Linked DNA regions of Homo sapiens: region 2 is linked to region 1. The links come from fine-mapping of genetic effects on gene expression. A gene starts in region 1. The other region holds a variant in brackets. All regions are shown on one strand. Distances are from middle to middle.

The links.
Region 2: its variant is fine-mapped to the expression of STX5 in whole blood (TOPMed, PIP 0.99).

The regions. Positions count from the first base shown.
Region 1 is chr11:62,830,393-62,833,298 of GRCh38, reverse strand. It overlaps STX5 (syntaxin 5), which reads left to right and starts at 1,248. Exons shown (of 11, transcript NM_003164.5): 1 at 1,248-1,345; 2 at 2,037-2,280. The coding sequence starts at 2,056. It overlaps TEX54 (testis expressed 54), which reads left to right and starts at 458. Exons shown (of 1, transcript NM_001395459.1): 1 at 458-978. The coding sequence starts at 549. The coding sequence ends at 923. It overlaps WDR74 (WD repeat domain 74), which reads left to right. Exons shown (of 11, transcript NM_001369450.1): 11 at 168-388. The coding sequence ends at 347. It overlaps STX5-DT (STX5 divergent transcript), which reads right to left and starts at 1,065. Exons shown (of 2, transcript NR_135084.1): 1 at 982-1,065. RefSeq lists enhancers at 738-787, 808-877, 1,248-1,337.
Region 2 is chr11:62,748,112-62,751,017 of GRCh38, reverse strand. It overlaps ZBTB3 (zinc finger and BTB domain containing 3), which reads left to right. Exons shown (of 2, transcript NM_001370809.1): 2 at 1-55. Among named protein-coding and RNA genes, the nearest start is that of ZBTB3, 4.6 kb to the left of the region's middle. The variant A/C (reference allele first, on the strand shown) is at 1,394.

The DNA.
Region 1 (2,906 bases):
TTAAACTTCTTTTTGTGGAGATGGGGTCTCCTTATGTTGCCCAGTCTGGTCGCTAAGTCCTGGGCTCAAGCAATCCTCCTGCCTTGGTCTCCCAAAGTGCTGAGATTACAGGTGGGAGCCACCGTGCCCGGCCCCCCTGACTCCTAAGCTTTCTTCCCACTCACCAGGATGAGCCCCAAGAGCCTCAAGAACCCAACAAGGTGCCCCTAGAAGACACAGAGACAGATGAACTTTGGGCATCCTTGGAGGCAGCTGCCAAGCGGAAGCTCTCGGGTTTGGAGCAGCCCCAAGGAGCTCTCCAAACGAGACGGAGAAAGAAGAAGCGGCCTGGGTCCACCAGCCCCTGACGCCCCTGTGCCCACTTTGTAAATAAACTGCTGAACACCCACCATGACCCTGAGCCTTTTGTGATGGGAGAAAGGAATGAGGGGTAGCTTGGGGTGGGGGCTGCCTGAGCTGGGGCGACGGGATATCTGATGTCACAAAAGCCGGGCCTGGAGGCAGGCAGGCTGGCGTGGGTGGCACGGAGTCCAGGGCCACGCGGGGCCATGGGCTGCTGCCAAGACAAGGACTTTGAGATGTCTGATGAGCAGTCCAAGGAGGAAGAGTCTGAGGACGGCAGGGAAGATGAGACCACAGACACACAAAGAGGGCCCAGGGAGTGTGAGAGGGGGCTTCCCGAGGGTAGGGGTGAGCTCAGAGGCCTCGTCGTCCCCTCAGGCGCCGAAGATATCGACTTGAACTCCCCGGACCATCCGAATCACAAGTCGAACGAAAGCCTTCTGATTACCGTGCTGTGGCGGCGACTATCCACGTTCGGTCGTCGGGGCTCCTCGCGGCCAAGCAAGAGGCAACCAGACCAGATTCGGAAGCAGGAGAGTCCGATCCGAGAAGGCAACCAGGAGGAGCCGGAGAAGGGATGACCCCAGACCTGCTCTCAGTCCGCCCCAACCTCCAGAGAATAAAATTTCTAACGTATACCTGCACGACCACTCTGGGGGACTGGGCGCGGACACCACCGGGCAGCTGGTTCTTTAAGGCTCCTTCCCGGAGGCGGGCCCAGCCCCCTGAGCGCCTGCTGTAGTACTCTGGGGCGGGGTCACGGTGGCGCCTTAGCCAATGGGAGGGCGGGATCGCTCTTGCGTTTGGGTGTGGGGCGTGTCTTTCGGGTCGCTGGGCTTGAAACGCGTGGGACCGCCCCCTCGTCACTGGGGGTGGGGTTACGTGTAGGTGACGTGGCCGCTTCCAGTCTTTGGTCGGGTTTCGGCGGCTTCAGTGCTCGGGGAGGAGGCAGTGACGGCCGGTGAGATTGGAAGTGGCGGCGGCGGCAGGCGGCAGAGGGGAGGTAAGATTCGCTTTAAGAGGGGATCTGGCCGCCGTGTCAGCTCTGGGGCAGTGGTTTTACGGGGGCGACGACTGGCGGGGGGAAGGGAATCAGGGGCGAGCGGGCAAGTCCTGCCGGCCCGGCTCCGGGTGAGCGAATTCCTTGCCGTCCAATCAGGAAAGCCTCTGTTGAGAGAGACGTCGGCCTTAGCTAATGAGTGGTTGAAGTCTTCCAGAAGGCGGACCTTGGGCGGGGGGTGGGACTTCCTGTTTCAAATAAACACCCAGAGGTTTTCCCCCTCCGCCCACCGAAGTGTGTCAGTCTTTGGAGGTCCGTCACTGGCCCTCCCGGAGGGGCCGAAGGAAACCGCGGAAACGAAAGGGCTGGGTTAGGGCCCGGGGCAGTTACACGGGCCGGGCCGGAGTCTCAGGACCACGGGGTTGGCTCTGGCCCTGTCTCTGCTTCAGGGTCCCCGGCCCGCGCTCTGGCCGCCAGAGCCAAGTTGGAAGAAGAGTCTGAAGCGGGTTCGACTTGGGACAGGGGAAAAGCGGGGCCCTTTCCGCTGCTGGTCCGCCCCAGGATTTGCGAGCGTCCTGGGCGCGAAAGTCCACGAGAAGTGCAGAAGGGGCTCGGGGATTTGTTGATTGGGGTGGGGCGGGGGAGTTTGGGTAAAGAAGTTGCCTGGGGAATGACACTCTCCCCTCCACAACAGTCCGAGGTTATGCGTCTCAATGATCCCGCGGAAACGCTACGGGTCTAAGAACACGGATCAGGGTGTCTACCTGGGTCTCTCAAAGACACAGGTCCTGTCCCCTGCAACTGCTGGCAGTAGCAGCAGCGACATCGCCCCTCTGCCCCCCCCAGTGACCCTCGTCCCTCCCCCTCCCGACACCATGTCCTGCCGGGATCGGACCCAGGAGTTTCTGTCTGCCTGCAAGTCGCTGCAGACCCGTCAGGTAAGGACCTGGAGTGGAAAAGGCGAGGAGTGAGCCTTACTCAAATCTAGGAAGGACTGTGCTCCACCACTGTTAACCGAAGTAATTTTGGGGGGTACCTGATGGAACTGATAGGCTTGGATGGGGCCTGTAGGGTCTGCTATAAGCAACAGAGAAGAGGTCGGCTGGCTAACTAGGGGCAAGGACTTAGACTTTTTTTTGTGAGGAATCCTTTGGAGGGCAGGATTGCTATTCTGGAGGGAGTACTTCAGAGAGTACTTGGCTGCAATATAATTGGTGTGAATAAGGAACAAGTTCTAGGAAGAGCCTTTAGCTGAGAAACATGCACCTTGAATTTTCCAATATACTTCTACCATAAGTTTGCTCTGTAACCATGAGAAAATTAGTTAATCTAGTTACATATTAGTTTTTATCTCTGTAAGATTAAGGACATTTTCTAGATAAGTAATTTGTTGTTTTTGTTTTGTTTTGAGATCTGTTTTTCAACTCTGTCAACAGGCTGGAGTGTAGTGGTGTGATGATAGCTCACTTGCAGTCTTGAACTCCTAGACTCAAGGGATCCTCTTTCCTCAGCCTCCTGAGCAGCTGGGACTACATGGATGCACCACTCAGCTAATTTTAAAATT
Region 2 (2,906 bases), 82 kb after region 1:
GCTTCTCACTGTATGTTCTGGAACATAAAGCTAGCAATGAAGGTATTTCTTTGAACTGGTGTTGGCTGGTTTCTTCTAAAAACCTGCATGCTTTCATACCTCTCCTGCAGTTCTTTTTTTTTTTTTTTTTTTTTTTTTTGAGACGGAGTCTCTCTGTCACCCAGGCTGGAATGCAGTGGCGCGATCTCGGCTCACTGCCAGCTCCGCCTTCCTGGTTCACACCATTCTCCTGCCTCAGCCTCCCTAGTAGCTGGGACTACAGGCACCCACCACCAAGCCCGGCTAATTTTTTGTATTTTTAGTAGAGACAGGGTTTCACCGTGTTAGCCAGGATGGTCTCGATCTCCTGACCTCATGATCCGCCCGCCTCTGCCTCCCAAAGTGCTGGGATTACAGGCGTGAGCCACGGCTCTCCTTCAGTTCTTTTTGGAATGTTACATCTGTACTTGGGGTAGGGGTAGGGGTAGGGGTCAGACTGCTCATGAGGAAAAAAGTGGGACAGGCAGAGGGCGATGTAGCCTTTACTTAGGAGAAGTATAGAAATTAAGGAAGCTTATAAAATTATGATTTATTATTGCAGTCGAGCTGTCTTCTGGGCTTTATCAGACATTTCGTATAAATACTCATTTAATCCTCAACAACATTAGGAGGTATGAGGTCCACTTCCTGTTTTGTTTGTTGTTGTTCATAAACCTGAGACTTAGAAATCAAAGTTAACTTGTTCAGGGTCACAGAGGCTAGTTAAGGGGCAAGCCAGCATTTGAACCTGGCTTGCCACTGCAAACACCCTGCCTGCTATACTGGTTAAAAACATTGTTTCTTCCAGGTGTGGTGGCTCATGCCTGTAATACCAACACTTTGGGAGGCCGAGGTGACCAGCCTGCCCAACATGGTGAAACCCCATCTCTACTAAAAACACAAAAAAAATTGTCTAGGTATGGTGGCTCTCACCTGTAATTACAGCACTTTGGGAGGCCAATGCGGGCGGATCACTTGAGGTCAGGAGTTCAAGACCAGACTGGCCAACATGGTGAAACCGTCTCTACTAAAACTACAAAAATTAGCCAGGAGTGGTGGTGGGCGCCTGTAATCCCAGCTACCTGGGAGGCTGAGGCAGGAGAATCATTTGAACCCAGGAGGTAGAGGTTGCAGTGAGCTGAGATCACGCCACTGCACTTCAGCCTGGGTGACAAGACCGAAACTCCACCTCAAAAAAAAGAAAACAAAAATTATCCAGGCTTGGTGGCGGGTGCCTGTAATCCCAGCTACTCAGGAGGTTGAGGCAGGAGAATTGCTTGAACCTGGGAGGCGGAGGTTGCAGTGAGCCGAGATCGCATCATTGCATTCCAACCTGGGCAACAAGAGTGAGACTCTGTCTCAAAAAAAAAAAAAA[A/C]AACAACATTGTTTGAAGGGCTGTTGGGGTGGCTCATGCCTGTTCTCCCAGCACTTTGGGAGGCTGAGGTGAAGGATCGCTTGTGGCTAGGAGTTACAGATTAGCCTGGGCAACATAGTGAGGCCTGCCTGTCACTATAAAATAATAATGAAAAGTTGAACTTAGTTAACCAAGAACTGTAAGTTGTTTTCTTTTTCTGTCCTTTTGTGTATTTGGCTTTGTTGCCTTGTTACCTCTGCTTTCCCCACTGAAAGACCTTTTGTTGATAGAACAGGTACTGTATTGATGATCTGAAATTTTTGCCTCAAGTTGTAGATATGAATTGACTTCTTTGAAGATGAGAAACTGGAAGGCAGGAAACACTAAGGCCCATAGTGGCTGATTAGTGGTGGGAGGTTGAGGGTCTGAGGTGCTGTGGCAATGATGGGTACTTGCAAAACCTAAAGCGAGAAACTCAGGATGAGAGGATCTTACAGTTCATGTAGTCCAACTCCCTCACTTGAAAAGTGTGACGACAACAGTCTAGGGAGGTTTAGGTTACTCACCTAAGGTCACGCAGGTGGTTACTGACAGTGGAGATAGCAAAGAAATGGGAGTTTGGGGTGCCATCATGGGATGGGGGCAAAAAAGAGCTCTGGGAATGTGTGAGGAGTCTGGCCCCGCCTGTGCTGTAGGAGGGCCTAAAGGTTTGCCTACAAACTTTTTCTTGGTACGTAAGGACATGAGTGCAAATAAAGCAGGAAGGAAAACAGAAATACGCTGGTCGCGGTGGCTCACGCCTGTAATCCCAGCACTTTGGGAGGCCGAGGCGGGCGGATCACAAGGTCAGGAGTTGGAGACCAGGCTGGCCAACATAGTGAAACCCCATCTCTACTAAAAATACAAAAAATTAGCTGGGCGTGGTGGCAGGCGTCTGTAATCCCAGCTACTCGGGAGGCTGAGGCAGGAGAATTGCTTGAACCCGGGAGGCGGAGGTTGCAGTGAGCCGAGATCACGCCATTGCACTCCAACCCTGGGTGACAGTGCGAGACTCCATCTCAAAAAAGAAAAAAAGAAAAGGGGGAAAATGACAAGTAAATATTCTTCTCTCTTTTTGAGTCTGTGTCATATTCAGCACTGTGAACCCTTACCAGCAAGTGACTATTTTTGAGTTACAGGAAGGAAAGGTGAGCAGCCATGTGGCTAAAGAAAGCTCCTTAACTAGGACATATGGGAAGCAAAAGATGGTTAACATTTTTCTGCTGAATGAATTCTACATTCTTTCACATTCTTTGTGTTGAAATAAACTTCTAGCTTATCTTTCAAATGGCTCCTAATTTTATTTATGCAAGTACGTTACTGCTTTAATTCCTTGATGAAACAAGGCAAGATATAAATAAATACAATAAAAGCTATTCTAGCTGGGTAGAACACCTTTTCAAAAGTCTTCCCTAGAGTAAATATCAAATCAAAATGCCTTTATGAATCAGTTGCCCTTAAAAGGGTGGATTTTACGGTCTGAATATCTCAATTT